2 linked regions of the Homo sapiens genome follow. The protein of the gene in region 1 purifies or fractionates together with the protein of each later gene. This does not show direct contact. Each region holds a gene or a part of one and is shown in the gene's direction. Other genes may lie near its edges.

Region 1 (16,692 bases):
CAAAGAAAACCAAACAAAAACCCAACTTCCAGAATCGATCATAAACAAAGAATCCTGGAATGTTTTTGTCTTCATCCTGATATTTTATGTCTTTTTTTTTTTTTTTTTTTTGAGACAAGGTCCCACTCTATCACCCAGACTGAGTGCAGCGGCGCCATCTTGGGTCACTGAAACCTCTGCCTCCTGGGCTCAAGCGAGCCTCCCACCTCAGCCTCTTGAGTAGCGGGGACTACAGACATGCGCCACCATGCCTGGCCAATTTTTTTATTATTTGTAGAGATGAGGTTTTGCCACATTGCTCAGGTTGGAATGCCCTATTTTAAGATGAGAAAATCTTATGAAACTAGCATATTCAAAAGGCTCACCAAATTTTGTAGGTTAATTAACAGCCATAACTGTTATGAACTTTGACTTATTTTTCACAGGCTAATTTTTTTTACTTCAGAGAATATTAATTACTACTGTTTGGAAATAAAAATTAACTCAGAGAAACTGAGTGAGTGTCATTTTGCCAACATATTTATAAAGTGGAAATTTAAAGGACAGTTTCTTAAATGGAATGCATGAGCATCTGTCTTTTTGTGTCTCATTCTGTGAATGATTCCCAATAAGGAATAATGAGTCCCATGTAGTCAAAGCAAGACTGTATTGACTCTTCTGATATTTTCTCCTAGATACTCAATTATTTACACTGCTTCTTGGTGTTATATTGAAAGTTTTCCATGGTCTTGGCACATAATGCTTATTTTTCTGGGCTAAAAACTCATGCAGCCATGCATGGAGTTAGGATTTTCAGTCTTTAATCACTTATTTGGCTGCCTGGTTGGAGTTTACCCTAAAGTGTTCAGCCTTGTCCATCCATACTTTACAAAGAGATAGAGGTAGAGGAGGCTGGGTGCGGTGGCTCACATCTGTAATCCCAGCACTTTGGGAGACTGAGGCGGGCAGATTACCTGAGGTCAGGAGTTGGAGACCAGCCTGGCCAACATGGTGAAACCCCATCTCTACTAAAAATACAAAAAATTAGCTGGGCGTGGTGACACACGCCTGAAATCCCAGCTACTTGGAAGGCTGAAGCAGAATTGCTTGAACCCGGGAGGTGGAGGTTGCAGTGAGCTGAGATCGTGCCATTGCACTCCAGCCTGAGTGACAGAGCAAGACTGTCTCAAAAAAACAAAAAAAGAAAGAAAGAACGAGGTAGAGGGGGCATTAGATCACGTGCCACTTTGTTTAGATGCTCTCATTTTCATAACAGAACCTTAAACTAAGTTCCTCCTGGTTGGTATACAAAGCGTATAAATTAATCAACACCTCAACATTTCTGCCCTTAGGTTTTGGCCCGTGAAAATGACCTTGAATTCTCTACCAAGTGATAGTTATCAAGTGTGCTGTAATGAGAAATGTTGTTTTGGTAGGACTGTAAAAGACCTGCATGCAAGGTCTCCATTCCTACAAATCAAATATGTCACATAGGTTGTTGTAGGTAGCCACTCACGCATCTTGTACCCACGATAAACATTGTTAATCAGTCACAGAACATTTTCCTTCTGAGCATGGACTCAGCCACAGAACTTCACAACACAGTTTATTTAGGCAGCTAATATGAATGGATCAGAGTTGACATGCAAATTGAAACCTACTTGCCATGCTGGGGAATAATAACCTAAATGCTACCATGGATTAATCCAGACCATTCCCTGTTGGGGTGATTGGACCCAACACCAGGTCTTGGGGGAGATGAAGTCCGTCGGACTCAAAGGAATGAGAAAAGACAGTTTGAGAGAGAAAGTGGGACCAGGGGGCCATCACTAAGTATGGAGGCTGTGAAGGCCCCGAGCTCTGGAAGCCCAGACTATTTATTGGTGATCAAACAAAGAAACAGGTGGTGAGAATGTGGGGTTGAAAAGGAGCGTTGCATTAAGCACATGATTTACAGCTGTGATGGTTTAGCATATGCTCTGCTACTTGAGATAACGGAGAGCAGGTTCTTTTAACTCAAGATACAATCGCTCCTAGGAGAGCAAGGAGCCAGCAAGTCTAGACACATTCCAGGGCCATGAGGGGTTTTATGCCCTGAGCCCTGGATTCTATCTAAGCAGGAGGGGTTTTATGCCCTAGGCTTAGATTATGGTGCAGCAGGGTAGCCTTCCACCCTTTAGCACAGAGCTTGGTGTTCCAGAGGCCACAAGGGGTTTTAGACCATGGACCCCGGACATGGTCCAAGACTCTTTTACATTATGTCAGACATGCAAGCCCTGCATCAGCTTCTCCCAACACTCAGCTTTTCTCCCAACAATTCCCAACGTGTGTACAGTCTATGGAGTTGAACAGGAAGGTTTGTATAGTCATAGAATTGACTTAATGGACTGTGCTTTGTGATTGTAACAATAGCTTACATTGAAGGAAACTGTGTAATTCTTTAGGACACTTATTTCCCACTTAGCTCACAACCTTATCTTTCTGAGGATTCAGGGTTTCTTTTGGCATTGAAAATCAAGAAAAACTGTAGTTCTCAAAATCAATCAAACAAGCAAACAAAACTCTGGCTTTTAGTTTATGAACACTGGGCTGGGTGCAGTGGCTCACACCTTATAATCCTAGCACTTTGGGAGGCTGAGGTGGATGGATTACCTGAGGTCAGGAGTTCAAGAACTAGCCTGGCCAGCATGGTAAAACCCCATCTCTACTAAAAGAAAAAAAAATTAGCCAGGCATGGTGGCGTGTGCCTGTAGTCCCAGCTACTCAGGTGGCTGAGGCTCGACAATCTCTCGAACCCAGGAGGAGGAGGTTGCAGTGAGCCAAGATGATGCCACTGCACTCCAGCCTGGGCGACAGAGCGAGACTCTGTCTCAATTATATATATTATTAACACTGGAAAACCTTAAAATGATGGTGATTCTCTCTTGCTATGGGCATTCAGAAGCTTAGAGCCAAATCTCTGGCCCACCTTTAGCAAGGACATTTTCCTCTGTGCTAAGAAGGAAAAAGTTCAGGCTTGGTGACTTGTTTATTTTATCATTGGCTGCATTATTCTCTTTCCTTTAAACTTCCCTTTCCGTGGTTCCTTCAGCTATTTCTTTTATCCAATATTGTCTTTAATTTTGAAACTGCCTCAAATCATTTGTGGAAGAAGATGAGCTGTTGCTAACTACATAAAAATGAACACAGTAACTTAATACAAACCATATTTGGTCCCAATTTTTGTTTCTGTTTTCAGGCAAGAAATGTCTTACATTTGAAACATTTTCTATACATGAGGCAGAATTCTCAGGGTCAGGGTGAACTTAATAAAAATGTTTTGTTGAAAAATTGTTCTTTTCTCTGTGCTCCTTCTAGCTCAACTTTGTGAATGTTCCCACTGTCTTCAAGGCAGAAATAGAACAGAAGGTGGGAAAAGAAGGGAACTAATATGTGATTCTAAAATCTTTACTGTTTAAAAAAATAAAAGTGAAATATTTATTGCTGGTAGATGAAGAATTATGTGTAGCAAATCTTGCTGCTATGAGAGGGAAAAAGTGTAGCTCTATACACAAGTAAAAAGGGCATACAAACAGTGAAGATTTATTGTGTAAAAGACTGTAGTAAGTACTATAAATGTGGCTTCCTGTGTTTGCTGCCCAGAAATATCCTACTAATCAGATCAAGAAAGCCTGGCTATGAAAAAATATGGCATCCTGGCCAGGTGCGGTGGCTCATGTCTGTAATTCCAGCACTTTGGGAGGCCCAGGTGGGTGGATCACCTGAGGTCAGCTGTTCAAGACCAGCCTGACCAACATGGTGAAACCCCGTCTCTACTAAAAATACAAAAAATTAGCTGGGCATGGTGTTGCATGCCTGTAATCCCAGCTACTCAGGAGGCTGAGGCAGGAGAATCACTTGAACCTGGGAGGTGGAGGTTGCAGTGAGCCGAGATCAGCCATTGCATACCAGCCTGGGCAACAAGAGTGAAACTCTGTCTCAAAAAAAAAAAAAAAAAGAAAAAAGAAAAAATATGACATCCTAAATAACCACTGTGTTTAATGACATATCAGATTTTACATTCTAGTTCAAGCTTATCTCAGCTTGAACCAGAGTACCTAGCAGTTCATAGGCTAGCACTTGAGTAGCACTGCCTTCTATCATTTATAGTTTAGTTCCTGGCATATAACTAAGCAGTCACTGAACAGATAAAGGAATTAATGAATCATAAAATTATTCATTTAGCAATATTTAAAGGGTATTTGCTGATGCCCCAGGTACTGTGTTAACTGCCAGGAGTACAAAGTTGGGCAAATTGGTCAGAGTCCCTGCTCTTAGGGAATTTACATTATAGTAAACAACCAACCAACAAATAATCAAATAATTTCAAATACTGAGAAACACTATGAAGAAAATAAAATAGGTAATAGAGATGGAGAGGTGAAGCTGTTACTCAAAGTGTCTTTTTGTTTTGTTTTGTTTTGTTTTGTTTTGAGACGAAGTCTCGCTCTCACCCAGGCTGGAGTGCAATGGCGTGATCTCGGCTCACTGCAACCTCCGCCTCCTGGGTTCAAGTGATTCTCCTGCCTCATCTTCCTGAGTAGCTGAGATTACAGGTGCCCACCACCGCGCCTAGCTAATTTTTGTATTTTTAGTAGAGACAGTGTTTCGCCATGTTGGCCAGGCCAGTCTCGAACTCCTGACCTCAGGTGATCTGCCTGCCTCGGTCTCCCAAAGTGCTGGGATTATAGGCATGAGCCACCGTGCCAGCCTCAGAGTGTCTTATAGAACCTCAGGATTGCATCTCCTGGCAGCATGCTTGAAATCTAGAATCTCAAGTCACATCGCGGAACCACTGCATCAGAGTCTGCATTGTAACATGATCTTCGGGTGATCTCTGGGCACAGTGCAGATTGAGAGGCTCTGGATACAACTTCAGATATGGTTGTCAGGAAAAACATATCTAAAGAGGTGACATTTTAGCTAAGTACTGAATAATGAGAAAACTCCAGCCATGTAAAGATCCGAGTAAAGAGTGGTCCAAACAATGGGAACAACAAAAGAAAATGTTCAGAGACAGGAATGAACATGGGAAGACCAGTATAGGTGGATCAGAGTGAGAAAGGGACCTGGAACTCTCTACACTCTGGTATTTATCAAAAACCCTGTGGTGAGAAATTATTTATTTATTTATTTATTTTTGAGACGGAGTTTCGCTGTTGTTGCCCAGCCGGGAGTGCAATGGTGCAATCTCGGCTCACTGCAACCTCTGCCTCCCAGGTTCAAGCAATTCTCCTGCCTCAGCCTCCCTAGTAGCTGGGATTACAGGCATGTGCCACCATGCCTGGATAATCTTCTATTTTTCGTAGAGATGGGGTTTCTCCAGGTTGGTCAGGCTGGTCTCAAACTCCTGACCTCAGGTGATCTGCCCGCCTCAGCCTCCCAAAGTGCTGGGATTACAGGCATGAGCTGCTGCGCCTGGCCACGAGAATTGTTGATTTTGAGTGACTGCACAAAGTTCTGCATGCAAGACCTCTATTTCTACAAAGCAGAGGTACCAGGTAGGTTATTGCATGCAGCCACTTACCTATCCTGCACCCACAGCATTGTTAACTGAGTACAGAACTTTTTCTTTCTGAGCCTGGACAAAGCCCCCAAACTTCTCAACATAGTTATTCAGGCAGCTACTACAAATAGTTCAGAGTTAACATGTGAGTTGAAACCTATTTGCCATCCTGGGGAAAGATGATCTAAATGCTACCCTGGATTAAGCCAGACCATTGAGGGCTTGTGTATTCAAGTGAACAGAAATATGTTGATGGTTCATGGAATTTTTTTTTTTTTTGATACAGGGTCTCAGTCTGTTGCCCAGGCTGTAATGCCGTGGTGTGATCACGGCTCACTGCAGCCTCAGCCTCCCTAGGCTCAGATGATCCTCTCACTTCAGCCTCCCAAGTAGCTGGGACTACAAGCATACATCACCACACTCAGCTAATTTTGTAGAGATGGGGCTTCACCATGTTGTCCAGGCCGGTCTCTAACTCGTGGGCTCATGCAATCCTCCTGCCTCAGCCTCCCAAACTACTGGGATTACAGGCCTGAGCCACTATGCCTGGCCAATTCATAGAATTGATTTAATGCACTGTGCTTTGTGATTGTGCCAACAGTTTCCATTGAGGGGATTTGGGTGTCACTCCTTATGACACATAGTTCCCACTAGGCTCACTACATCATCTTTATGAGGAAACTGTATTTCTCTCAGGACTAAAATTCAAGAAAAACTGCTTCTATAAAAACAAAACAGCCGGGCACGGTGGCTCCCGCCTGTAATCCCAGCACTTTGGGAGGCTGAGGCAAGTGGATCACCTGAGGCCAGGAGTTCGAGACCAGCCTGGCCAGCATGGTGAAACCCCGTCTCTACTAAAAATACAAAAATTAGCTGGGCATGGTGGCGGGCGCCTGTAATCCCAGCTATTTGGGAGGCTGAGGCAGGAGAATCACTTGAACCCGGGAGGCAGAGGTTGCAGTGAGCCGAGATCATGCCATTGCACTCCAGCCTGGGCAACAAGAGTGAAATTCCATTAAAAAAAAAAAAAAAAAAAAAAAGGCCGGGTGCAGTGGCTCACACCTGTAATCCCAGCACTTTGGGAGGCCGAGGCGGGTGGATCACCTGAGGTCGGGAGTTCAAGACCAGCCTGACCAACATGGAGAAACCCCATCTCTACTAAAAATACAAAATTAGCCGGGCATGATGGTGCATGCCTGTAATTCCAGCTACTCAGGAGGCTGAGGCAGGAGAATCGCTTGAACCTGAGGGCCGAAGGTTGCAGTGAGCTGAGATCGCGCCATTGCACTCCAGCCTGGGCAACAAGTGCAAAACTCTGTCTCAAAAAAAAAAAAAAAAAAAAGGGAAAAGAAAAAAAGCCAGTTTTTATCTTATGAACAGTAAAAACCTAAAAATGATTGCTATTTCCTCTTTTCTATGGCTATTCAACAGCTTAGTTAGGGTCAAATTTCTGGCCTACTTCTGACAACTGTTCTGGATCTGATGGAGTGCAAACTTAAATGTTAATCTTATCATTGGCCACATCATTCTCCTTCCATTAAGCTCTCCTTTCACTGGTTCCTTCCCCTATTTTTAAATCTACTAATGTCTATATTTTAGGACGCTGCCTCAAATCATTTGTGGAAGAAGGTGAAGTAGAACTACTTGTATAAAAATAAACTCAGTAATTTATATAGACTGTATTTGGACCAATTTCTGTGAATTCATTTTTCAGGCAAAAAATGACTGACAGTTGAAACATTTTATAAATGAGGCAGAGTTCTCAGGGTCAGGGCGAGCATAATGAAAGTGTTCTGTTGAAAGTTGTTCTTTTCTCTGTGTTCCTTCTAGCCCAACATTTTGAATATTCTCACTGTCTTCAAGCCAGAAATGCAAGGGAGGAGAAGAAAAAAGAACTGTGTGATAGTAAAATCTTTATTGTTGGCATATGAAGCAATATAAGTAGCAAATTTTACTTCTACAAAGGGGGGAAATTATATATTTCTATACATGTGGAAGAGTAGATATTCAGTGAAGATTTTTTGATAATTTATTGTGTAAAGAAATGTACTAAATACTATAAAAGTGGCTTCCTATGTTTACTACCCCCAAATATTCCTACTAATGACCTGAGATTACCAACTCCTTTTCCACCTATTAACCTTTTGCCACATCTTCCCCAATTTTCTCATCCAAACCCAAGTTGGGGCAACTTCAGACTGTAAGCTTCTTGAGGCTTGTCTTGTTTGTCAGGGGAGCATGTACTCAATAAATGAAATTTGCATGAATGAGTCAGAGATTTATGTACACAGGGGAAGAAAGCTGGTTATAGCTTCTTCATATTTTTCACGTGGACCCAGAGTTGTAAATTGAGGGAAGAAGGATAGCAGAGTAATCTCAAAGCACAAAGTGGGGGTGATGTCTTCACACGCCCTCAGCAGCAACGGGGCACTGGGTGCTTAGGAAAGCCCATCTGAAGGAGACATCAGGAAGTAGAGGAATTCTGTTTTTTCCACTCATCTGCCTAGTATTTAAGGTCGGCTAAGAGGCTAGAAGGAACACATCCACAGTTCTGCTTTAGAGGATATGAAAATTGGGCTGGAAGGAACACGGGTCCACAGTTCGAGTTCAGAGGACATAAAAACTGGCTCAAAGAAACTCGGGTAAATTGGACATGAAAACTAGCGGGAAAGGACACGTTCAGTGTTTGTTTCCCTACTGAGTCACCTGTTCCCAGCACATAAAGTCGTGGTGTTTGGAGATGGGAGGAACCGAGGGAAAGTCACTTTTTAGATAAGGCTCTGAAGCCCCAGGTCTAGTTTCAATCCACTAATGCGGCCAGCGGCGAGCAGGAGGAGGGAGGATTGGTCCGGCGGGGGCGGGGCCAGAGCAGGGCTCAGAGGCGTGGCCCAGGCTAGAGGGAAGAGCCCAGGGGGAGCGCAGAGGCGGGGCTAGGAGGGAGCAGGGGTGAATGGGGGCGTGGCCCGGGCGAGAGGGGCGTGGCTGTAGCTAAAGGGGTGTGGCCAGGGTGGAGGGCAGAGACTGGCACAGTTTGGTTGGGCGTGACCGGGGCAATAAGTACGGACGTAGTGGGGCGTGGATCTGCCAGGTGGGGGCGTGGCCTCCATTGAGGGGCGTGGCCCTGGTATGTGGGGCGTAACAGGGCACGAGGGGGCGTAGCTTCGATGGCCGGACGTGCAGGCTGCGGATCCCCGTAGGCGAGCGAGCGGCTAGGTTCGTGATCTGGAGAGACGCTCAGGTAAGGACGGGTGGCCGAGAGGAGTGGGGGGCGACCAGGGACAGGCCGATCCAGACAGGGCCGTGATTCTTCCCACGACTCTCCGCTCTGGCGCACCGGGTTCCGGAGCTAGGAGAGCTGTTGATCCTGCGAGTATTGTCTGGGTCCCGGCAGGGCGCCCGGGAGTACTGAGTGGGGCCTAATGGGGTGTCGAACTCCCCCACCCCAGCCCTCTTCCTCCACTATGGGAGTTACCAAACGGCTGTCATCCTTTAAGGTTCTTTGCACAGGACGCGATAACAGCTGTTCCAGAGAAAAGGGGGTGGGGGCGCGGGAGAGCAGTTCCTTGGTAGGTAGGGTTGCCAAGGTTGGTTGAATCCAAATAACTCCAGAAAGTCCAGCCTTCTGTGAAATAGCTAGAGACGGGGGTAAGGGCGACAAATCTGAGGTTGCGGTTCCAGAAACCGAGGCTCAGTAAACTGGAACTCCCTCAGATCTGCATTGTATCCGCACCACCCACTATGCTAGGGGCTGTGGAGAGACTCACAGCCACTCACCCCCAAGACAGGGTATCAGCATCACAACTGTGCCATGCGGGCAAATCTGAGCTTTCTTCACCCTGCAGTTCTTTCTTCTGGCCTTTTTGTTTTGTGCTCAGCCCTAAAGCTGAAGGAGAGGAACCTCCAAATACAAACCTTGTTGGTTTTCGTGATTCTTGTGGCATTCAATGTTAAATGCTTCTGCCCCGAGGCTTGTGGCAATTGGTTAATATTGATGTCAGTGCCCTTCCCTCCTGTGTATTTTCGCTGGGAAAGTTTGAGAGATAAGGGGAGTTGATGTGTACAACTTAGTTTGAAAAGAACTTGTTCTCTCCTAGCCACTGAAAACCGCGTTGCTTTCTGCTTCCCATTCTTCCTTTACTGATAATCTGGCCATCACTCTGCTGTTTAAAAGTCTTGCTAGAGTATGGAGACAAGTAGTGCTATTTCTGTGGTGAGAGAAGCTGCCCCAGAGCATACCCTTGAATTGTCCCTGCACATCTCTCAGGAGTGGCCACTCTTCTTGGGTATGTTGGAAGTGGAAAACCGTAAAGCTTTCTAGGAATATTTTTTACTGAGGTTTTTTTTTTTTTTTAACCTCAGCATCAGGGTTGGAATTCACTGAAATGCCAAAAGCAGCAAGGGCACCGTTCTCTGTGCCTGTACACACCTGCCCTCTTCTCCCTGGAGCCAGGCAAAAAGCTGCAACCACTCACAATTGGAACGCAGTAAAGGTTGAGTGAATTGTGAGTGAATGAATGAATATGAATATTTGGGAAATTTGACGGAAAGGGGAAAATGCATTTCATCTGATTGGTGGCACTGGGCAATTAATTGCAGCACAAAGAGCAGTTATTAGAAACATATTCTGAAACCTTTGGCTACCACACATTGGGATCATGCTCCCAGGGAAGAAGTGGGTGAGAGGGGGAAGCTGAGCTTTCTCAGTCAAGATATCGCAGCATAATCTCTAATTTAGATTTCAGGGAATTGCAAAAAGGCTTGTTGCCTTTTGAAATCAGGTGGTGATCAAAGGAAGGGTCCATCTGTTGAAAATGAAGGAATTTTTTTCCAATGTAATTGTAACCTTTAGTCAGAGTACATTCTTTTTTTTCTGTCTGTTTTGCCTACATATGAATGGCTTAATCAGGCAGAGTTCAAGCTGCTTGTCATTTAATAAATACAAGATTTATGAATGACTCATTGAGGGCTTTCAAAATCTTTGTTTCCACGCATTTCTAAGTCTGGAAAACAGCTAAGGGGCAGGTTAGCAAAATCCAAGGATATACATAAATCATCAGTGATGGCAAAGAGTATATAACACAGAAAGCTCCCCTGTAGTCCATCGAGCCCAGGGACCCATCTTTATGGACAAACTTATGTACGGACAGATTCTCCCTGAAATACAGTAATGTATGGTATTAGTTGATATGTGCTGTGTTTGCTGGTTAAACATTATTTTTGGTTTCACAAACTTGGGTTTTATGAATGCAGTGAGTAAGTTTAAATAACCAACTCTTAAAAAACTATAACTTCTAATTTAACAGAGAGGATAGACCTTAGGCCTGAACAAAAATAACCTCATGTATTGTTATAGGTATTGCAATCAAGCATTAGCTAAATTGAATTTCTGTTTACTTGGATTTTCCTGGAACCTCCTCACCTGGATCTTCCAAGCTCTGCGCCTTCCTTGATTGCCTTTGACCGTTCTCAGTCTCAGCATCCTTCATGGCTCCTTTTTGTGAGTCTCCCTTGATATACCTGTAACTGCTGGGAGGAGGGGATTCTCTTTCTATCTGTAGCTTCCTGACTGCTCCTGAGCACCAGAGCTGTGTTGCCAACTCTCTCCTAGACCTTTCCTCTCAGCTATCCCATTGACACCTTAAATCCAATATGATTAGAGGGCTGGGCGCCATGGCTCACGCCTGTACGCCTGTAATCCCAGCACTTTGGGAGGCTGAGGCGGGTGGATCGTTTGAGGCCAGGAGTTCGAGACCAGCCTGGACAACATGGCGAAACCCCGTCTCTACCAAAAATACAAAAATTAGCTGGACGTGGTGGTACGCCTGTGGTCCCAGCTACTTGGGAGGCTGAGGTGGGATAATCACTTGAGCGTGGGAGGCGGAGGGTACAGTGAGCCAAGATCGTGCCACTGCACTCCAGCGTGGGTGACAGAGACCCCATCTCGTTCTGTTTTTCTTTTTCTTTTTTTTTTGAGACGGAGTCTCGCCCTGTCACCTAGGCTGGAGTGCAGCGGCACAATCTCGGCTCACTGCAACCTCCGCCTCCTGGGTTCAAGTGATTCTCCTGCCTCAGCCTCCCGAGTAGCTGGGCTTATAGGCTTGCACCACCATGCACGGCTAATTTTTGTACTTTTAGTGGAGATGGGGTTTTGCTATGTTGGCCAGGCTGGTCTGGGACTCCTGCCATCAAGTGATCCACCCTCCTCGGCCTCCTAAAGTGCTGGGATTACAGGCGTGAGCCTCTGCACCTGACCCGGAGACCCTGTCTCAAAAAAAAAAAAAAAAAAAAATCCCATTTGATTAGAGGTATGACCTGCCATCATCTTTCCCTTCCCTGTTTCTCATGACAGGTTTGTGGGGGATTTTGTTTGTTTGTTTTTTTTTGAGACAGTGTCTTGCTGTGTCGCCCAGGCTGGAGTGCAGTGGCACGATCTCAGCTCACTGCAACCTCTGCCTCCTGGGTTCAAGCAATTCTCTGCCTCAGCCTCCCGAGTACAGGCGCCCGCCACCACGCCTGGCTCATTTTTGTATTTTTAGACAAAAATCTCTAGACGAGGTTTCACCATCTTGGCCAGGCTGGTCTGGAACTCCTGACCTCTTGATCCACCCGCCTCGGCCTCCCAAAGTGCTGGGATTACAGATGTGAGCCACTGTGCCCGGCCTAACAAATTCTATTTTTCTGTACAGGGATTCATCCTCGTCTTACTGCTAGCATCACTCCAGCCATTAAATGAGATCTTCCTCCACTTCTTCCTTTTATTCTCCTTTAACTGAGTGACAGACCCTACATTTTAAAAATCACAATGGCTATCTTTGAATACCAAGTACCCTGTCCAACTATACTGTCACTGCCCAGTTCAGTGCTTCATATTCTCTTACTCAGATTATTGGAGTTTCACTTCAAACTCCACATGCTTAAACCTGAGCTACTTATTTCCCACCCAAAACCTGTTTCTCCCACTGTCTCCCCTATCTCAGTTTGTGGTAACTTTATCTTTCCAGTTGTGTAGACCAAGAATCTTCCAGTAATCCTTAACTCCTTTCTTTCACATCTTATGGGCTGTATATTCAAGATATATCAAAATTCAACCACTTCTTACCACCTCCACTGTGACATCTCTGGATTAGTTCAAGCCTTGGATTATCCCTAAAGGGTTTTCCTACTTCTTTCCTACTTCCTGCTTCTTTCCTGTTCCTCCCTGTTTCTACTCCCCAAGGCAATTTTCAACAGGACATGCTGTGATGTTTTTCTGTTTTTTTGGGTTTTTTTTGAGACGGAGTCTCGCTCTGTCACTCTGATGCCAGGCTGGAGTGCGGTGGCGCAATCTCAGCTCACTACAACCTCCACCTCCTGGGTTCAAGCAATTCTCCTGCCTCAGCCTCCCGAGTAGCTGGGATTACAGACGTGCATCACCATACCTGGCTAATTTTTGTATTTTTAGTAGAGTCGTGGTTTCACCATGTTGGCCAGACTGGTCACGAACTCCTGACCTCCAGTGATCCTCTCCTCCCGCCTCGGCCTCCCGAAGTGCTGGAATTACACGCATGAGGCAACACGCCCAGCCTGAGTGATCTTTTAAAAATGTAAATTACTGTATGTAAATGTAAAATGTTACTGCTCTGCTCGGAAACCTCCACTGTCTCCCCTTTTTACTTAGAGCAGTGATTTTCAACCTGTGGTAACCCTATTCCCCTCCCGCAGGGGACATCTGGCAATATCTGTAGATATTTTTTGTTGTAACAACTCTGGTATAGGGTGGAACTGGCATCTATTGGATGCTAGCCAGTACCGATGCTCCTAAACACCCTACAATGCACACAGCATTCCCCCACAACCAAGAGTCATCTGATCAAAAATGTCAACAGTGCCAAGACTGAGAAACCCTAACTTAGAGAAAGAACCCTTGCAGTAGCCCAGAAGTCTTGATCTGTCATCCATTACCTGTGAACCTCATCTCCTACTGCCTTCCTCCTGGTTCACTCTACTCCTGCCATATTGGCCTCCTTACTATCCCTTGAATATGCCAGACATACGCCCACTTCAGGATCTTTGCCCAGGCAGTTCCCCACGCCTGAAATGTCCTTCCTTTAGATAGCCATGTAACTAATTCCCTACCTCCTCCAATCCTTTGCTCAAATTTTATCTTCTCAGCGAGGCCTCCTGTGAACAATATATTTAAAAATATAATACCCTCTCTCAAGTGGCACTCCAAATTCATCTTACCCTGCTCCACTTTTTACTAGACATATTCAAATTGTCTCTACAACTGACTTGTTTATTACATTTGTTGTTTATTACCTGTATCCCCTACTAAAATGTGAGCTCCATAAGGGTAAGGGCTTTGTTCTGTTCCCCAATGAACCTAGAACCATGTTTCATACTTAATAGATGTTCAATTGATATCTTAATGACAAAAAGAATAAAAGAGTGATAGACTGAATGAAGGTTGGTTAAAGGAATCACCTCCTCACTGACTTTCCTGGCTCCACTCACTCCCATCCATCCCGTACTCCATTGTCAGAGTCATCAGAAACCATCACTGCTTTCTCCTGTACCCATGGAATAATATCCAAAAGGCTTCCAGTCTCTTGGAAGTTCATATTCCCCAAATTAATCTCAAATCCTCATCTAGCCCCACCTCCTGCTGCATCCCCTGGGCATCTGCTTGGCCAGTGCATTGACAAATATTAATAGCAGACTTGGAATGATGGGAAGTTCAGAAATACTCTTGGCTTTCTTTCAGAAAAACAGGTTTGAGGTTTGTGGGGTTTTGTTTTTGTTTTGTCTAAAGGAGAAAAAGAAAATCTTCAGAGTCAGGGTCCCCTACAGTGAGATCAGCACCATTCTGGGGCACAGATAGAGGTCCAGACTTTTGGACCACTACAAGCAATCTACCACTGAGTGTGGAGGAGAATGACTGAGAGGGTGAAGGTGAGGATGAAGTCAGGCCCTCTGGAGCCCTCCTGCCCCCTAGCCCTAGAGAGTCAGTCTGGATGTACAGGAGAAACTTCCTCTAGGCCAGGCGTCATTGGCCTCCAGCCTTGGTGTCATGCAGACAGTGTGATTGCAGAATGGAGGGCAGTCCTCAAGGCATGACCATGGCCCTGGCCGTCAGCCCCAGCCTGCCATGCCTCAGTGCTTTCCGGATGGCTCTCTGTGGAGCAGAGTCAAGGGTCATTTCCCAGATGTCTCTGAATGCCATGCTAACAGGCCTCAGACCCACCCCCGACCAACAGCCTCTTGTGCAGGGCCCTGTGCCTTGGCCTCATGTGTGTTCACTCATCTGTTTGTACAGCTCTCCTGGCTGGCGGCCATGCCCTTGGCCTTGTCTTATCACAAGCTTCCCTTTGAAGGCAGAGCCCACACATCCTTTCTGTTGACTTTGCATTGTACTTGCCATCATCTTCCCAAAAATTACTATGTCTCATTCTAACTCGATTGTGAGCAAGAAAGGAGGCCTTTTCCACTTGTTTGCCCACATCCCCCTGATACTGGAATTGTTTATTGAGTAAACCTAAAGTTCTTCCCATTTTGACTCCAATTGTTCTCTTCAGCATTGGGGCCTCATCATCCCCTGCCACCTCCTCATCATCGCGGAAGGTTCCCCTGTCCATCCCTCTGCCTTTGCCTCCCTGTTAAATTGTCTCTCTCCTACAATACATTTTTCAGATGCCACCCTTTCCTGAAACTTAGAGCCCCTGCGCCACATATTCCCATTGCACTAAATCAAGGCCGTCATTGTGTCCAGCTTTGATTAAGAAATTTCTGTTTATGGCCAGGCACGGTGGCTCATGCCTGTAATCCCAGCACTTTAGGGGCCAAGGTGGGCAGATCACCTGAGGTCAGGAGTTCGAGACCAGCCTGGCCAACATGGTGAAACCCCGTCTCTACTAAAAATACAGAAATTAGCCGGGCATGGTGGTGGGTGCCTGTATTCCCAGCTACTCTGGAGGCTGAGGCAGGAGAATTGCTTGAAGCTGGGAGGCGGAGGTTGCAGTGAGCCGAGATCGCACCACTGCACTCCAGCCTGGGTGACAGAGCGTGACTCTGTCTCAAAAAAAAAAAAAAAAAAAGAAAAGAAAAGAAAAGAAAAGAAAAATCTGTTTAATTATACTAAGTAAAATAAGCCAGTCACAGAAGGACAAATACCGTACGATCCCACTTACGTGGGGTATCTAGAATAGGCAAATAAATACACAGAGACAAAGTAAAAGCGAGATTGCCAGGGGCTAAGGGATAGAGGAGGAGTTATTGTTTAGTGAGTACATAGTTTATGTTGGGGATGATGAAATAGTTTTGGGTGCAGATGGTGGTGATGGTTGCACAACATTATGAATGTATTTAATGCCACTGAATTTGTACATTTACAGCTGGTTAAAATGATAACTATTATATATGTTTTATCACAATTTTTAAAAGGTAACAAAAAAAGAAGTATTTGTTTAAATAGTTTTTCTTTGTAGATTGCAAGCTTGTGGGAGTGGGGAAAGAGCATGATCTTTTCATCTTTACACAGCACAGTGCTCGACATGAGATAATCACTCACTGTTCCTTCAGTTCAGGACTGGAAATCAATGGAAAGGAAGAACAGTTAAGGCAAGCTTTCCCCATATCTTTTAGAAGGTTTTGAAATTTCATTTTAATGTCAAATCAGTTTTATCAGAGGGAATCCTGATTAGTTGCAGTTGTTTGTTTGGGGATATTTATTGACTTTAAAAGAAAACAAAAAAATGATACTAAAAGTCGTCCAAAATGACTATTTTCATAGCTTTTTGCATTTATATGATGGGTAGCATTTTAACAAAATCAATTTGAGTAATAATAACTTGTATTTATATAACACTTAGCAGCTTTTTCAAAGAGCTTTCATAGCTTGCACCATTTGAAGCCACAGAAAGCGTCAACTTCTTTTTTTTTTTTTTTTTTTTTTTTTGAGACGGAGTCTCGCTCTGTCACTCTGTCACTCAGGCTGGAGTGCAGTGGTGCAGTGGCATGATCTCGGCTCACTGCAACCTACACCTCCCGGGTTCAAGCGATTCTCTTGCCTCAGCCTCCTGAGTAGCTGGGACTACAGGTGCACGCCACCACGCCCGGCTAATTTTTTGTATTTTTAGTAGAGATGGGGTTTCGCCATGTTGGCCAGGATGGTCTCGATCTCCTGACCTCAT
Region 2 (16,254 bases), on another chromosome or scaffold:
ACTCCAAAACCTGTGCTGTTAGATGTTATATAAACCTCAACAATCATTGCCTCCATTATTTGAGCACATATGTGCCAGACACTATAGACACATCTGTAATCCTCACAAGGACCCTGCAGGCAGGTTGATTAACTTATCTAAAACCAAGTAAGCTGAACTAGGGATTTGAACACAAATCTGTCTGGTTCTGAAACCTGAATACTTTCCACTGTGCCCCACAATGAGACTTTTTGTTTGTCTCTTTTTGAGAAAAGTAAGGTTGCTGTGGGAAAAAAATAAAAGTTTATATTTTGTGAAATATGTAATAGAGTCATTAAAATGTTCATATTCTTTCAGCCAGTTATCCTGCCACTGGGGAACTATCCCAAGAAAATAATCTAGGAATCATTCTTCCTTGTATTTTATATAGCCAAAAATTAGAAGATGCATACACATTCAAATTATGTTATGTATCCTTGATAAAATGTTATGTAACCCTTAAATGTGTTTAAGTATGAAGACCATTTAGCATAACAGAAAATAGATATAGTAACGTGGAACATTAGGTTATTAAGGGCATCAGATGAAATAATGATTTAACATTTTGCTTTGAAATCTATAAAGCATTTTAATAATTTTTTTCTTAATAATATAGAAAGAAATATATAGAAGAAATGTATGATTTGGCTTTCCTAAAACACTCCCTAAAGATGGGTATAGAATACTTGGGTAGAGTGCTTGTATGATTACTAAAAATTAAATATTGGATTTAGTTATCAGAAATCATCTTTTTTCTTTGAATTTGCATATTTATGAATTGAGTTTGTTTAAAATTAAGAACCAGTGGCATTTACAGTTGTTTGTAACTGCCTAAAAATTATTTGTTTAAATTTTCATAGTCCATTTGTTACAAACTTAGTGTTTGCCTTAGTAAAGTCCTTTATTATTTTAGTCATCCTTAGAGATGCACTAATACAAATGAAATGGGGCCTATCCCTAAGAAATTAATACATACTATATATGAGGAGATCATTCCAAGCTTTTATGTTTATTTTTATTTAAATAGAATTAAATGTTTTGTACTGATCTTTCCAAAGCAACTACCAGAAAAATAACTAATTTGAGAGAGCTTTTGTATTATGATTATTTAAGTTGTTACGTTTTTAACTGGTAGCCAGTGTCAGAAACATTGGTCTAAATTTGGTATAGCATTTAGTTTCTCTTAAATTCTCAGCTCTCCCTCTTCTTATGTAGTCCCCAAGAATAGAAAAGGTCGAGTAAGAATTATGCAAGAGATTTTAAAATACTTGAGTATAAAAATGTAAGTTTTCAGCTGGGCATAGTGGCTCACGCCTGTAATTCCAGCACTTTTGGGAGGCTGAGGTGAGAGGATAGCTTGAGGCTAGGAGTTCAAGACCAGCCAGGGCAACAGAGTGAGACCCTGTCTCTACAAAAAATTTTTTTAAAAAGTAAGTTTTCATAAATAGCTCTAGATTATATATAATATAGATACCTGATGGTTACCACATGCATATGTGAACAGTATATACAAAAGTAATGATTACTTAAGTAGAAAATGAAAAGGTTATTTCCTTTTACTAATTTATTGGACAGATATATTTTACTGTCAGTTGATCAAATTCCATTTTGAAACTTTAATGATGTTTTTAAATAGTTGTATTTTTGGCATTAAAATATATCATTTTTTAGATTAAGCTGAGTGAAGTTGTTGGCTCAGGAAAAGATGGCAGAATACTTAAAGAAGATATCCTCAACTATTTGGAAAAGCAGACAGGAGCTATATTGCCTCCTTCACCCAAAGTTGAAATTATGCCACCTCCACCAAAGCCAAAAGACATGACTGTTCCTATACTAGTATCAAAACCTCCGGTATTCACAGGCAAAGACAAAACAGAACCCATAAAAGGTAATGATAATAATAACAATACTATAAGGCAATAGTTCATTTATTTTGGGGGAAGCTACCTCAGTAGATAAATGTATATAATATGGTGTTTTCAAGTCTTACTGAAGGGAAAGTTCAACTTCAGTCAGCATATAATTTTTCTTTTCTTTTCTTTTTTTTTGAGATGGAGTTTTGTTCTTGTTGTCCAGACTGTAGTGCAGTGGCACGATCTTGGCTCACTGCAGCCTCCGCCTCCCAGGTTCAAGCAATTCTCCTGCCTCAGCCTCCTGAGTATCTGGGATTACAGGTGCACGCCACCATGCTCAGCTAATTTTTTGTATTTTTAGTAGAGACAGGGTTTCATCATGTTGGCCAGGCTGGTCTCGAACTCCTGACCTCAGGTGATCCACCCTCCTCAGCCTCCCACAGTGCAGGGATTACAGGCGTGAGCCACTGCGCCTGGCCATAATTTTTAAATGGTGAAATAGCATAGCTTTTCCAGGAAACACTTACAATTTATGTGTATCATTATCTTCTGAAGAGTAATACGTTAGCAGGTTTCTTGAAATATAAACTTGTATATTGATAATTGCTCTGTTTGAAGACACACAGGACATTTTAAACATTCACTATTTGTAGTTAGCTTTCAAAATAACTAGTTCTGATTTGTTATTTATAAACTCCTGGAATGATTAACTTCCAGAAGAGTGGCTTTGCAGGAAAGCTGTTAGGGAAATACATGGCTTGCATTCTTTTGAATTTTTTATATAACACAGCATTTAAAGCAGTTACCTGCTATGTTATTGCATTTGCCACTGAGTGTCATGATGCAGTCAGTGTTCCAGCTTTGAAATTAGTGACTTTCAGTGTAATGTAATGAAGAGAGTAGTAAGAGGAAGGGTTTAACTGAGAGAGTAAAAGACATTAGAGAACCTTCCATTTTAGTTTCTTTAAAAAAAAAAAAAAGGATGAAGAGATTTGAGAATTTAAATAAATGAATAACAATTTAATGCTTTTCAGGCTTTCAAAAAGCAATGGTCAAGACTATGTCTGCAGCCCTGAAGATACCTCATTTTGGTTATTGTGATGAGATTGACCTTACTGAACTGGTTAAGCTCCGAGAAGAATTAAAACCCATTGCATTTGCTCGTGGAATTAAACTCTCCTTTATGCCTTTCTTCTTAAAGGTGAGATTCATTCATTTCAAACAAGGCTTGAGTAGGACATTTATTTGTTTGTTTGTCTTTTTGAGACAGAGTTTTGCTCTTGTCACCCAGGCTGGAGTGCAATGGCACAATCTCGGCTCACTGCAACCTCCACCTTCCGGGTTTAAACAATTCTCTTGCCTTAGCCTCCTGAGTAGCTGGGAATACAGGCACCTGCCACCACGCCTGGCTAATTTTGTATTTTTAGTAGACACGTGGTTTCGCCATGTTGGTCAGGCTGGTCTTGAACTCCTGACCTCAGGTGATCCACCCCCGCCCCAGCCTCCCAAAGTGCTGGAATTCCAGGCGTGAGCCACCATACCTGGCCCCAAGTAGGACATTTAAATTTTGCTTTGCCAACATGCAATATGTTGACTGTGGCCTTGAATAAAAATATTACTTTTCGCAACATCAGATAGTTAGAAAATGTGCCATTTCTTTGTTCAATAGGAAATTATAAAATTGAGATTTCTGTACTATATTTTTAGCTGCTTATCTTTGAGCTAGGTAGAGACAATTCTGCCAGTTAAGTAAAGCCTCTGATCCTAAAAGGATCACTCCAACCAAGTCTTGGTTTGAACTAAAATGAGACTTGATATTAATTTTGCAATATCACTGACATATATTTAATATTTATTTTCATTTACTCAACCAACTTATATTGAGGATCCTGGGAATCATTTCTAGTGCTAAGCCTTGGGACCAGTATAAAATGGAGTAAGACCATCAGCTAACCTTGAGCAGCATACAGTCTAGCTCACATTAGTGACTGTGCAGCAGCTACCATGTGCCAGCCTCCATAGTAAGCATGCTGTATACATTATCTCTCTCTTTTTTTTTTTTTTTTTTGGTATGAATCTCATTTATTGAAAAGATTATTTCTCACCTTTCTCAAATTGAAGACTGCAAAAAATAAAAGCAGTGCTTCATTGAGTTGTCATGAGCCTGGGGCAGGAGCAGCAGCGCTGCCTCTCCACGCTCCGGGAAACCGCAGCTGGCGTGTGCCACATCGGTCCCACCTCGCTTTACAAAACAGTCCTGAAGCTTAATCAAATAAAACTATTGAACACAACATTTACATTAGAAAAAGAGAGCTGGGTGTAGGAAAGGCCGAGCCTGGTGTTCCCTTTAAGCGAAGGTGGCTCCACAGTTGGGGCATCTTCGCTCCCTCAAGGCAAAACAGCAAATGAACCCAAAGGGGAACAGGATGATGGCCAGGAAGATGCCCAGGAAGGTGAAGCAGTCCTGCAGCCCCCCGACCCTGCAGACGGGACAGCCTCCCACGACCACGATAGAGTTGGTAGGATAGCGGATGACGGTCCAGCTGTGGATGTTGTAGACCCTGGGATGGTGGGTGGGTGTCCGTGTGACGAGGTAGGAGTAGGGCGGCTGCGGGGGCGCGGCGGGGATGGCGCCGTAGCCGTGCGGGCCTCACGCGTAGTCGCCCTGGCCGGCCTCCAGGTTGTAGGCGGGCGGCCGCTCCTGCAGCAGAGTCTTGTGGTCCATGGCGGCCCGGCTCGGCTCTGTCGGCCCCGGCGGGGACGCGGCGCACGCCCCGGGTGGCTCGGGCCCCTCTGAGGCAGACGCGGGGCAGGGCCCATTATCTCTTAATTCTCAGAGTAACCCTGACATGTAAATATTACTGTCTCCACTTTCCATTTAAGGAAATTGGGGCTCAGAGAGGTTGAGAAACTTGTTAAGGACTTACAGCTAACAGGTGGAGAAGCTCTTTCAGGTTCTGGTCTGTTTTACTCAGAAGGACATACTGATGTCTGTAATGCCAACATGTCCAGTCCTTTCTCTACACTGCACCAAGACTGGTCTTCCGTAAATCAAATTACTGTAATATTCTCTGATTCTTTTCAGTGGTTCCCTTTCATTACCTTCAGGATAATTTGTATGCCATACTCCTTAGTGTGGCATACAAATGTGTTATAAGTCTCTGCTGCCTGCCTCTCCATTCTTACCTCACTCCCTCATATTAAGGTACCCATAATTGCTGGAATACACAATTCCACCTGAAGTGCCCGTTCTTCTCGATCAAACACCTGCAAATCCCAAACTGTGGTCAGGTACAGACTCCTTCTGTGGCTGTCACTATTTGAATTAAATACTTTTGTTTCCCACTGTTAACTTATCTCAGTGCATTGAGTGCTTACTCAGTTTTCTCTTCACTTACTCACTTACTGGGCGCTGAGCCTCATGAGGCAGAAACTATTCTTCTTTATCTCCCTTTTTCTTTCTTTCTTCTTTTTTTTTTTAGAAAGGGTTCACTTTGTTGCCCAGGCTGCTGGAGTGCAGTGGCACAATCACAGCTCACTGCAACCTTGAACTCCTGGGTTCAAGTGATCCTCTGCCTCAGCCTCCCGAGAAGCTGGAACCACAGGTGTGCACCACCACACCTGGCTAATTTTTTTTTATTCTTAGTAGAGATGTGTCTCGCAGTGCTGCCCAGGCTGGTCTTACAGGGATGAGCCAGCATGCCTGGCTATTTTGTTTTAAAATAAAACATAAGTTTCAGAACATTCGAAAAAATACTACACAGTATTGTAGAGGGGGAACAAATGACCTAATCCATTGACACATACCTTGTATTTTCTTGGACAAAATTTGGATTATACTCAAATATTTTTATATGTAACAGTTTAGACTAACCTTAGGGGTTTTTAGATAAAGACTATTAAAATTACAGTTATTGAATCAAATGCTTACTAAAACTTTCAAGTTGGCTGGGCGCAGTGTCTCACGACTGTAATCCCAACACTTTAGGAGGCCAAGGCAGGCAGATTGCTTGAGCTCAGGAGTTCAAGACCAGCCTGGGCAACATGGTGAAACCCCATCTCTACAAAAAATACAAAAGTTACCTGGGCATGGTGGCACACGCCTATAGTTCCAGCTACTCGGGAGGCTGAGGCAGGAGGGTCACTCGAGCCAAGGACGTTGAGGCTACAGTGAGCTGAGATCATGCCACTGCACTGCAGCCTAGGTGACAAAGAAAGACCCTGTCTCAAAAACAAACAAGAAAAACTTCCAAGTCATAAAAATTAAGGAACTCGTAGCAGTTCTTTTAATTATATTTTTCTTCAGTTGATCTACTCTCTTAACCTGTCCTAACTAATGAAAATGAAATGTCTCTATATATTTAAACTTTTTTCTTAACTCTCTAGTTCAAGAATTTGATTTTTTTCCCATCAAGACCCCGATGCACTGAGAAGAATAACACAATGCATGTAAAGAACTTTAACAGGGACCAGACAAGGGCAGTGGGGGAGGGAATTCTTTTTAAGAATGATCTTAAGCATTTTTATTTTGCTATCTTTTAAATTCAATACAATGCATGGCCACCACATGTAAGGTATGAAACTTGATTATTAGATCCCAAAAACAGATTATCAAGAACATTTTGGGTACAGTTAGGGAAATCTGAATATGGACAGGAGAGAAATGGTATTAAGTGACAAAAGGGAGAAGGCAGCAGAGAGGGAAAATATAAATGCTATTCAGTGAGACTTGAGCTGTAAAGTAAATGTTCAGGACATCTCTGCCCTTCAGCTGGCCAAGGACACCAAGTAGCAAACTGGCATCTACTGGTCAGTGCGCTTTGAAATCCTCGTTACGTGTTCTTTCCACACAGAGAAATAGCTTACCTGCTTTTTTTGTGTTTTGATTCCTAGTATTACTTCTCATGGAAATCTTAAGATCAACATGTCAGTGAGGAAATCACCTAGAATTTAGACATTTTCTTTGGAACTTTGGCTGGTCTGTATCATTATTTTGAAAATCTCCTTGATGTTTACAAGCTACCTGACTACTTTATCTTTTATTCTTTAATGATTAGGGTGACCTAGTTCCACATGGCCTGAAGGTAACATTGGCAGTAATGTGACTAGGTACATGTAGACTTGAAATTAAACTCAGCATAAATAAGAGTTCTCTCTCTCCCTCCTTTTATACCTCTTATTGTTTCAAATTCTCTATCCTTTCTAAGTTAAAAGTACTAAAATTGCATTCTTTTTCTGTTAAACAGGCTGCTTCCTTGGGATTACTACAGTTTCCTATCCTTAACGCTTCTGTGGATGAAAACTGCCAGAATATAACATATAAGGTTGGCTATGCAGAGTAAAAATGTTCTTATTATTAATAGAAGATGGGGCAAATGTGCTTGTAGATTAGAGACTTCTATTGTACCTCAAATAGTGATCTTTTTTAGACTAGAATTAAAGGTATGGGGTAAAACATTAAACTTAAGTCTAATTCATTGTTGTTGTTTTTGTGTTAATAATACTGTTTAGAGATTCTTAAAACTATTTTTAAGCTTTTTTTTTTCCTGCTTAAAATAATGGAAATACATAGCTGTATGGCAGATTATGTTACCCACTCTACTTACCCTCTCAAAAAGAAGCAGCTCTTTCAAAATTGAATTCCTGGAATTTTAATATTATTATTCTTATTCTTCTTCTTCTTCTTCTTCTTATTATTATTATTATTATTGGCAGAGTCTCACTCTGTCACCAGTTTGGAATGCAGTGTTGTGATTGTGGCTCACTGCAGCCTCAACCTCTCAGGCCCAAGCAATCCTTCTGCCCCAGCCTCCTGTGTAGCTGGGACTATAGGCATGCGCCACTATGCCCAACTAATTTTTAAATTTTTTGTAGAGACGTGGTCTCATTATGTTGCCCAGGCTGGTCTTGAACTTCTGGTCTAAGCAATCCTCCTGCCTCAGCCTCCCAAAGTGCTGGGATTACAGGCATGAACCACTGTGCCTGGCAAATTCCTGGAATTTTAATATTAAGAATAATTTAAGTGAGAAAAATAATAAAAGTTTGAATTCAATTTGAGTAAACTCTTCTGTGAGTAGTGAAAGTTTCTTAAGACCGAAAACTCTTTTTGAGATGCCTTTCCTGAAGTTTACTTATCATTAGAAGTGCACAACCAGAGGCTGGGCACGGTGGCTCACGCCTATAATCCCAGCACTTTGGGAGGCTGAGGCGGGTGGATCATGTGAGGTCAGGAGTTTGAGACCAGCCTGGCCAACATGGTGAAACCCTGTCTCTACTAAAAATACAAAAATTAGCCAGCCGTGGTGGCCAGCGCCTATAGTCCCAACTACTCAGGAGGCTGAGGTGGGAGAATTGCTTGAACCCAGGAGGCGGAGGTTGCAGTGAGCCAAGATTGTGCCACTGCACTCCAGCGTGGGCGACAAGAGCAAAACTCCATTTCAAAAAGAGAATTAAAAAAAGAAAAAAAAGAAAAGACATGTACAACCAGAAAGTGAGCTTAGATATTCTGGGAGGTCAGCTCCCATACGGTTAATACAGTCAGCTGTATTAATTTTAATTTTAATATCTCCTGATTAAGTATATACTTATTAAAAAAATTTCAGGCAAGAAAATGATGTTGGCCGGGTGTGGTGGCTCCTGCCTGTAATCCCAGCACTTTGGGGGACAGAGGTAGGAGGATGGCTTGAGCCTAGGAATTCAAGACCAGCATGGGCAACAAAGTTAGGAGGCCCCATCTCTACAGAAAAAAAAAATTAGCCAGGCATGGTGGTGCATGCCTATAGTTTTAGCTGCTTGGGAGGCTGAGGCAGGAGAATCATATGATACCTGGGAGATGGAGGTTGCAGTGAGTTGTGATCATGCCACTGCACTCCAGCCTAGGTGACAAAGTGAAACCCTGCCTTTGTCAAAAAAAAAAAAAGAAAAGAAAAGAAAAGAAAAAAGAAAACAAAGATGTTTACCCTCAATTCCATGACCCTAAGATAGCTCACTGTTTATGTTGAGATATACATCTTTCTAGGATTTCATTTTTACATACTTTTTACAAGATATAGAATTATTTATATTTTCTTTAACTTGCTTTTTTCTTTTTCTTTTTTTTTTTTTTTTGATACAGAGTCTTGCTCTGTTGCCTATCTAAAGTATTCCCCATAGAGAATATCTATGCTGTGGTGTAATCATCGCCTCACTGCAGTGTCCACCTCCCACCGCAGCCTTCTGAGTAGCTGGGACTATAGGCACGTGCCACCATGCCCAGCTAATTTTTGTACTTTTTTTTTTTTTTTGTAGAAATGGGGTCTTGCCATGTTGCCCAGGCTGGTCTCTAACTCCTGGGCTCAAGTGATCCACCCACCTCAGCCTCCCAAAGTGCTGGGTTACAGGCATGAGCCACTGTGCCCAGCCTCTTCATTTTCATTTACTATATTGTAGACATCATTGTCAACAAGTATAGCTTTGTTATTTATTTAGCCAGTGACCTATTTATAAACATCATGATTATTTGCAGTTTCTCAAACTTATAAACAGTGTGTACTCAACATCCCTGTGTATCCCTACATACTTCTGCACTTAGTTCCTTAACACGAATTTTTATAAATGTTGGTTCATGTTGTCATATGTTCTCCAGAAAGTCTCTACAGTTTAAGTATCCGTTACCTGAAATGCTTGGGACCAGAAGCGTTTTTGGATTTAAGATTTTTTTGGATTATGGAATATTTGCATATACAAAGGAGATATCTTGAGGACAGGACTCAAGTGCAAACATGAAATTCACTTATGTTTCATTTACCCCTCATACACATAGCCTAAAGGTAATTTTATACAATATTTTTAACATTTTTGTGCATGAAACAAAGTTGGATTTGTTTTTTTTTGTTTTTGTTTTGGAGACAGAGTCTTGCTCTGTGGCCCAGGCTGGAGTGCAGTGCTGCGATCTCGGCTCACTGCAAACTCTGCCTCCTGGGTTCATGCCATTCTCCTGCTTCAGCCTCCTGAGTAGGTGGTACTGCAGGAGGCTGCCACTACGCCTGGCTAATTTCTTTTTGTATTTTTCGTACAGATGGGGTTTCACTGTGTTAGCCAGGATGGTCTCCATCTCCTGACCTCGTGATCCGCCCGCCTCGGCCTCCCAAAGTGCCGGGATTACAGGCGTGAGCCACTGTGCCCGGCCACAAAGTTTTTTTTTTTTCTTTTTTTGACACAGAGTTTTGCTCTGTCACCCATGCATAATCATAGCTTATTGTAACCTAAAACTCTTGAGGTCAAATGATCCTCCCACCTCAGCCTCCCAAGTAGCTGAGACTATAGGCATGTGCCATAATTTAAAAAAAAATTTTTGTAGCTAATTAAAAAAAATTTTTTTGTAGAGATGGAGTCTTGCTATGTTGCCCAGGCTGGTCTCAAACTCCTGGCCTCAAGCAATCCTTCTGTGTCAGTCTCCCAAAGTGTTGGGATTATAGGCATGAGCCACTATGCCCTGCCAGAACAATGGCTGCATTTTTCTCTTTTTTTTTTATTGATGGGCTCTGATATGATTAAATATTATAAAATGAGAACTGTTTCAACAACTATGCAGCATAATGTTTAAGGACAAAATATTGAATATACTTTTTATTATATATGTATTTTATCACATAGTAAGGAATGCTGAGGTGCTTAATCCATCCAATAAATTGAAAATAAAATCTTTACATTTCTATATTTGTCAGTATACAGAATTCTGAAGATGGATCTTGACTCAGGGTGATAAATCAGTTTTCAAGGAAATTGGCTACATCACATGACGTCATTTCAGCCCCCAGAAGTTTCAGATGTTGGAGCATTTCAGATTTCAGATATTTGGACTAGGGATGCTCAACCTGTACCAGTTACATTCCCACTAACGATGTTGGGAAATAGCCTATTGCCTACATTCTTATCAATAAAAAATTATCATCTTTTTTTGGACAGAGTCTCACTCTGTCTCCCAGGCTGGAGTGCAGTGGCACAATCTCGGCCCACTGCAACCTCCACCTCCCAGGTTCAAGCGATTCTCGTGCCTCAGCCTCCCGAGTAGCTGGGATCACAGGCCTGTGCCACCATGCTAATTTTTGTATTTTTAGTAAAGATGGGGTTTCACTATGTTGGCCAGGCTGGTCTTGAACTCATGACCTCAGGTAATCCAGCCACCTTGGCCTCCCAGAGTGCTGGGATTACAGGCATGAGCCACTGCGCCTAGCCCAAAAAATCTTTTAAAAATTATTTTTAAATTATTTCTTTTAAATCACTACCAATCTGGTAAAAATGAGTTTTGGTAGTGGTTTCTAGATGGCAGTGAAGGTTGATCCTTTCTTTGCTGTTAGCTTATTCATTAAAAGCCCTACTGTACAATTTTTTATTTTTTAGGCTTCTCATAACATTGGGATAGCAATGGATACTGAGCAGGGTTTGATTGTCCCTAATGTGAAAAATGTTCAGATCTGCTCTATATTTGACATCGCCACTGAACTGAACCGCCTCCAGAAATTGGGCTCTGTGAGTCAGCTCAGCACCACTGATCTTACAGGAGGAACATTTACTCTTTCCAACATTGGATCAGTGAGTAATAATGTTGAAATACATAAACCATTACTTAAGGTTTCTGATCATATGCTTAATTAAAAATAGAAAAGTCACTTGGCATTTGTTCCCTGAAAAATCTTAACTTTTAATACTCTCCTTTTTTTTTTTTTAAAAAATAGATTGGTGGTACCTTTGCCAAACCAGTGATAATGCCACCTGAAGTAGCCATTGGGGCCCTTGGATCAATTAAGGTACATGTATTAGATAACTGAAAAATGGAGTTTAAGCAAATTCAGGGACTAAACACAATGAAGAGTAACCATTTCTAAGGTTTCCCCTCCTTTTGTAGGTTTTAAGTTTCTGAGTTTATCTTAGAAAGTCTATTATTTCTTTTTTTTTTTTTTTTTTAACTTTAAGTTCTGGGATACATGTGCAGAATGTGCAGGTTTGTTACATGAGTATACACCTGCCATGGTGGTTTGCTGCACCCATCAACCCGTCATCTACATTAGGTATTTCTTCTAGTGATATTCCTCCCCTAGCCCCAGACCCCACGACAGGTCCCCAGTGTATGGTGTTCCCCACCCTCTGTCCATGTGTTCTCATTTTTCAACTCCCACTTATGAGTGAGAACATGCAGTGTTTGGTTTTCTGGTTTCCAGCTTCATCCATGACCCTGCAAAGGACATGAACTCACTCTTTTTTATGGCTGCATAGTATTCCATGGTGTATATGTGCCACATTTTCTTTATCCAGTCTAACTAACATTGATGGACATTTGGGTTGGTTCCAAGTCTTTGCTATTGTGAATAGTGCTGCAATAAACATACATGTGCATGTGTCTTTATAGTAGCATGATTTATAATCCTTTGGGTATATACTCAGTAATGGGATTGCTGGGTCAAATGGTATTTCTGGTTCTAGATCCTTGAGGAATCGCCACACTGTCTTCCACAATGGTTGAACTCATTTACACTCCCACCAACAGTGTAAAAGCGTTTCTATCTCTCTATATTCTCTCCAGCATCTGTTATTTCCTGCCTTTTTAATGATTGCCATTGTAACTGGCATGGTATCTCATTGTAGTTTTGATTTGCATTTCTCTAATGACCAGTGATCATGGGCTTTTTTTCATATGTTTGTTGGCCATATAAATGTCTTCTTTTGAAAAGTGTCTGTTCATATCCTTCGCCCACTTTATGATGGGTTGTTTGTTTTTTTCTTGTAAATTTGTTTAAGTTCCATGTAGATTCTGGATATTAGCCCTTTGTCAGATAGATAGATTGCAAAAATGTTCTCCCATTCTGTAGGTTGCCTGTTCTCTCTGATGATAGTTTCTTTTGCTGTGCAGAAGCTCTTTAGTTTCATTACATCTGATTTGTCAATTTTGGCTTTGTTGCAATTGCTTTTGGTGATTTAGTCATGAAGTCTTTGCCTATGCCTATGTCCTAAATGGTATTGCCTAGGTTTTCTTCTAGGGTTTTTATGGTTTTAGGTCTTACATTTCAGTCTTTAATCCATCTTGAGTTAATTTTTGTATAAGGTGTAAGGAAGGGGTCCAGTTTCAGTTTTCTGCATATGGCTAGCCAGTTGTCCCAACACCATTTATTAAATAGGGAATCCTTTCCGCATTGCTTGTTTTTGTCAGGTTTGTCAAAGATCAGATGGGTTGTAGATGTGTGGTGTTATTTCTGAGGCCCCTGTGCGGTTCCATTGGTCTATCTCTCTGTTTTGGTACCATTACCATGCTGTTTTGGTTACTGTAGCCTTGTAGTATAGTTTGAGGTCAGGTAGCATGATGCCTCCAGCTTCCTTCTTTTTGTTTAGGATTATCTTGGCTATGTGGGCTTTTTTTTTGGTTCCATATAAAATTTAAAGTAGTTTTTTCTAATTCTGTGAAGAAAGTCAATGGTAGCTTGATGGGAATAGCATTGAATCTATAAATTACTTTGGGCAGTTTGGCCATTTTCACAATATTGATTCTTCCTATCCATGAGCATGGAATGTTTTTCCATTTGTTTGTGTCCCCTTGTATTTCCTTGAGCAGTGGTTTGTAATTCTCCTTGAAGAGGTCCCTCACATCCCTTGTAAGTTGGATTCCTAGGTATTTTATTCTCTTTATAGCAATTGTGAATGGGAGTTTCCTCATGATTTGGCTCTCTGTTTGTCTGTTATTGGTGTATAGGAATGCTTGTGATTTTTGCACATTGATTTTGTATCCTGAGACTTTGCTGAAGTTGCTTATCAGCTTAAGGAGATTTTGGGCTGAGCCGATGGGGTTTTCTAAATATACAATCATGTCATCTGCAGACAGAGATAATTTGACTTCCTCTCTTCCTATAGAATATGCTTTATTTCTTTCTCTTGTCTGATTGCCCTGGCCAGAACTTCCAATACTATGTTGAATAGGAGTGGTGAGAGAGAGGGCATCCTTGTCTTGTGCCAGTTTTCAGAGGGAATGCTTCCAGCTTTTGCCCATTCAGTATAATATTGGCTGTGGGTTTATCATAAATAGCTCTTATTATTTTGAGATATGTTCCATCAATACCTAATTTATTGAGTGTTTTTAGCATGAAGGGGTGTTAAATTTTATCCAAGGCCTTTTCTGCATCAATTGAGATAATCATGTGGTTTTTGTCATTGGTTCTGTTCATGTGATGGATTATGTTTATTGATTTGCACATGTTGAACCAGCCTTGCATCCTAGGGATGAAGCCGACTTGATTGTGATGGATAAGCTTTGTAATATGCTGCTGGATTCGGTTTGCCAGTGTTTTATTGAGGATTTTGGCATTGATGTTCATCAGGGATATTGGCCTGAAATTTTCTTTTTGTGTGTGTGTCTCTGCCAGGTTTTGGTATCAGGATGATGCTGGCCTCATAAAATGAGTTAGGGAGGATTCCCTTTTTTTCTGTTGTTTGGAATAGTTTCAGAAGGAATGGTACCAGCTCCTCTTTGTACCTCTGGTAGAATTTGGCTGTTAATCTATCTGGTCCTGGGCTTTGTTTGGTTGGTAGGCTATTAATTACTACCTCAGTTTCAGAACTTGTTATTGGTCTATTCAGGGAGTCGACTTTTTCCTGATTTAGTCTTGGGAGGGTGTATGCGTCCAGCAATTTATCCATTTCTTCTAGATTTTCTAGTTTATATGTGAAGAGGTGTTTATAGGATTCTCTGATGGTAGTTTGTATTTCTGTGAGATCAGTGGTGATATCCCCTTTATCATTTTTTATTGTGTCTATTTGATTCTTCTCTCTTTTCTTCTTTATTAGTCCAGCTAGCAGTCCATCAATTTTGTTAATCTTTTCAAAAAACCGGCTCCTGGATTCATTGATTTTTTTGAAGGGTTTTTTTGTGTCTCTGTCTCCTTCAGTTCTGCTCTGATCTTGTTTATTTCTTGTCTTCTGCTAGCTTTTGAACGTGTTTGCTCTTGCTTCTCTAGTTCTTTTAACTGTGATGTTAGGGTGTTGATTTTAGATCTTTCCTGCTTTCTTCTGTTGGCATTTATTTCTGTGGGAAATTTATAGTGCTATAAATTTCCCTCTACACATACTTTAGCTGTGTTCCAGAGATTCTGGTACGTTGTGTCTTTGTTCTCATTGGTTTCAAAGAACATCTTTATTTCTGCCTTCATTTCATTATTTACCCAGCAGTCATTCAAGAGCAAGTTATTTAGTTTCCATGTAGTTGTGTGGTTTTGAGTGAGTTTCTTAACCCTGAGTTCTAATTTGATTGCACTGTGGTCTGAGAGACTGCTTGTTATTGTTTCCATTCTTTTGCATTTGCTGAGGAGAGTTTTACTTCCAATTGTGTGTACGATTTTAGAATTAGTGCTATGTGGTGCTGAGAAGAATGTATATTCTGTTGATTTGGGGTGGAGAGTTCTGTCGATGTCTATTAGGTCCGCTTGGTCCAGAGCTGAGTTCAAGTCCTGAAGATGCTTGTTAATCTTCTGTCTCATTGTTCTGTCTAATGTCTAATGTTCTGTCTAATGTTGACAGTGGGGTGTTAAAGTCTCCCATTATTATTGTGTGGAAATCTAAGTCTCTTTGCCAGTCTCTAAGAACTTGCTTTATGAATCTGGATGCTCCTGTATTGGGTGCATATATATTTAGGATAGTTAGCTATTCTTGTTGCATTGATCCCTTTACCATTATGTAATGCCCTTGTCTTTTTTTTATCTTTGTTGGTTTAAAGTCTGTTTTATCAGAGACTAGGATTGCAACCCCTGCTTTTTCTTTTTTTTTGCTTTCCACTTGCTTGGTAAATCTTCCTCCATCCCTGTATTTTGAGCCTATGTGTGTCTTTGCACATGAGATGGGTCTCCTGAATACAGCACATTGATGGGTCTTGACTCTTTATCCAGTTTGCCAATCTGTGTCTTTTAATTGAGGCATTTAGCCCATTTACATTTGAAGTTAATATTGTTATATGCAAATTTGATCCTGTCATTATGATGACAGCTGGTTATTTTGCCTGTTAGTTGATGCAGTTTCTTCATAGTGTCGATGGTCTTTACATTTTGGGTTGCTTTTGCAGTGGCTGCTACCAGTTGTTCCTTTCCATGTTTAGTGCTTCCTTCAGGAGCTCTTGTAGGGCAGGCCTGGTGGTGACAAAATCTGTCAGCATTTGCTTGTCTCTAAAGGATTTTATTTCTCCTCCACTTATGAAGCTTAGTTTAGCTGGATATGAAATTCTGGGGTGAAAATTCTTTTCTTTAAGAGTGTTCAATATTGGCCCCCACACTCTTCTGGCTTGTAGAGTTTCTGCCGAGAGATCCACTGTTAGTCTGATGGGCTTCCCTTTGTGGGTAACCCGACCTTTGTCTCTGGTTGCCCTTAACAT

Evidence for each region.
Region 2: the proteins of CA5B (region 1) and DBT purify together in Homo sapiens (affinity purification with mass spectrometry; 2 studies listed by BioGRID and IntAct, with this or other methods). This does not show direct contact.

What each region holds. Positions count from the first base shown.
Region 1 is NC_000023.11:15,729,591-15,746,282, forward strand, and holds the start of CA5B (carbonic anhydrase 5B, mitochondrial precursor), read left to right. Parts: upstream 1-8,679; 5' UTR 8,680-8,762; intron 8,763-16,692. UniProt on the Homo sapiens protein: Mitochondrial carbonic anhydrase that catalyzes the reversible conversion of carbon dioxide to bicarbonate/HCO3.
Region 2 is NC_000001.11:100,201,635-100,217,888, reverse strand, and holds part of DBT (lipoamide acyltransferase component of branched-chain alpha-keto acid dehydrogenase complex, mitochondrial isoform 1 precursor), read left to right. Parts: intron 1-1,689; coding exon 1,690-1,906; intron 1,907-2,905; coding exon 2,906-3,072; intron 3,073-3,938; exon of another isoform or gene 3,939-4,666; intron 4,667-6,764; exon of another isoform or gene 6,765-6,849; intron 6,850-7,117; coding exon 7,118-7,195; exon of another isoform or gene 7,196-7,196; intron 7,197-11,252; coding exon 11,253-11,444; intron 11,445-11,587; coding exon 11,588-11,659; intron 11,660-16,254. UniProt on the Homo sapiens protein: The branched-chain alpha-keto dehydrogenase complex catalyzes the overall conversion of alpha-keto acids to acyl-CoA and CO(2).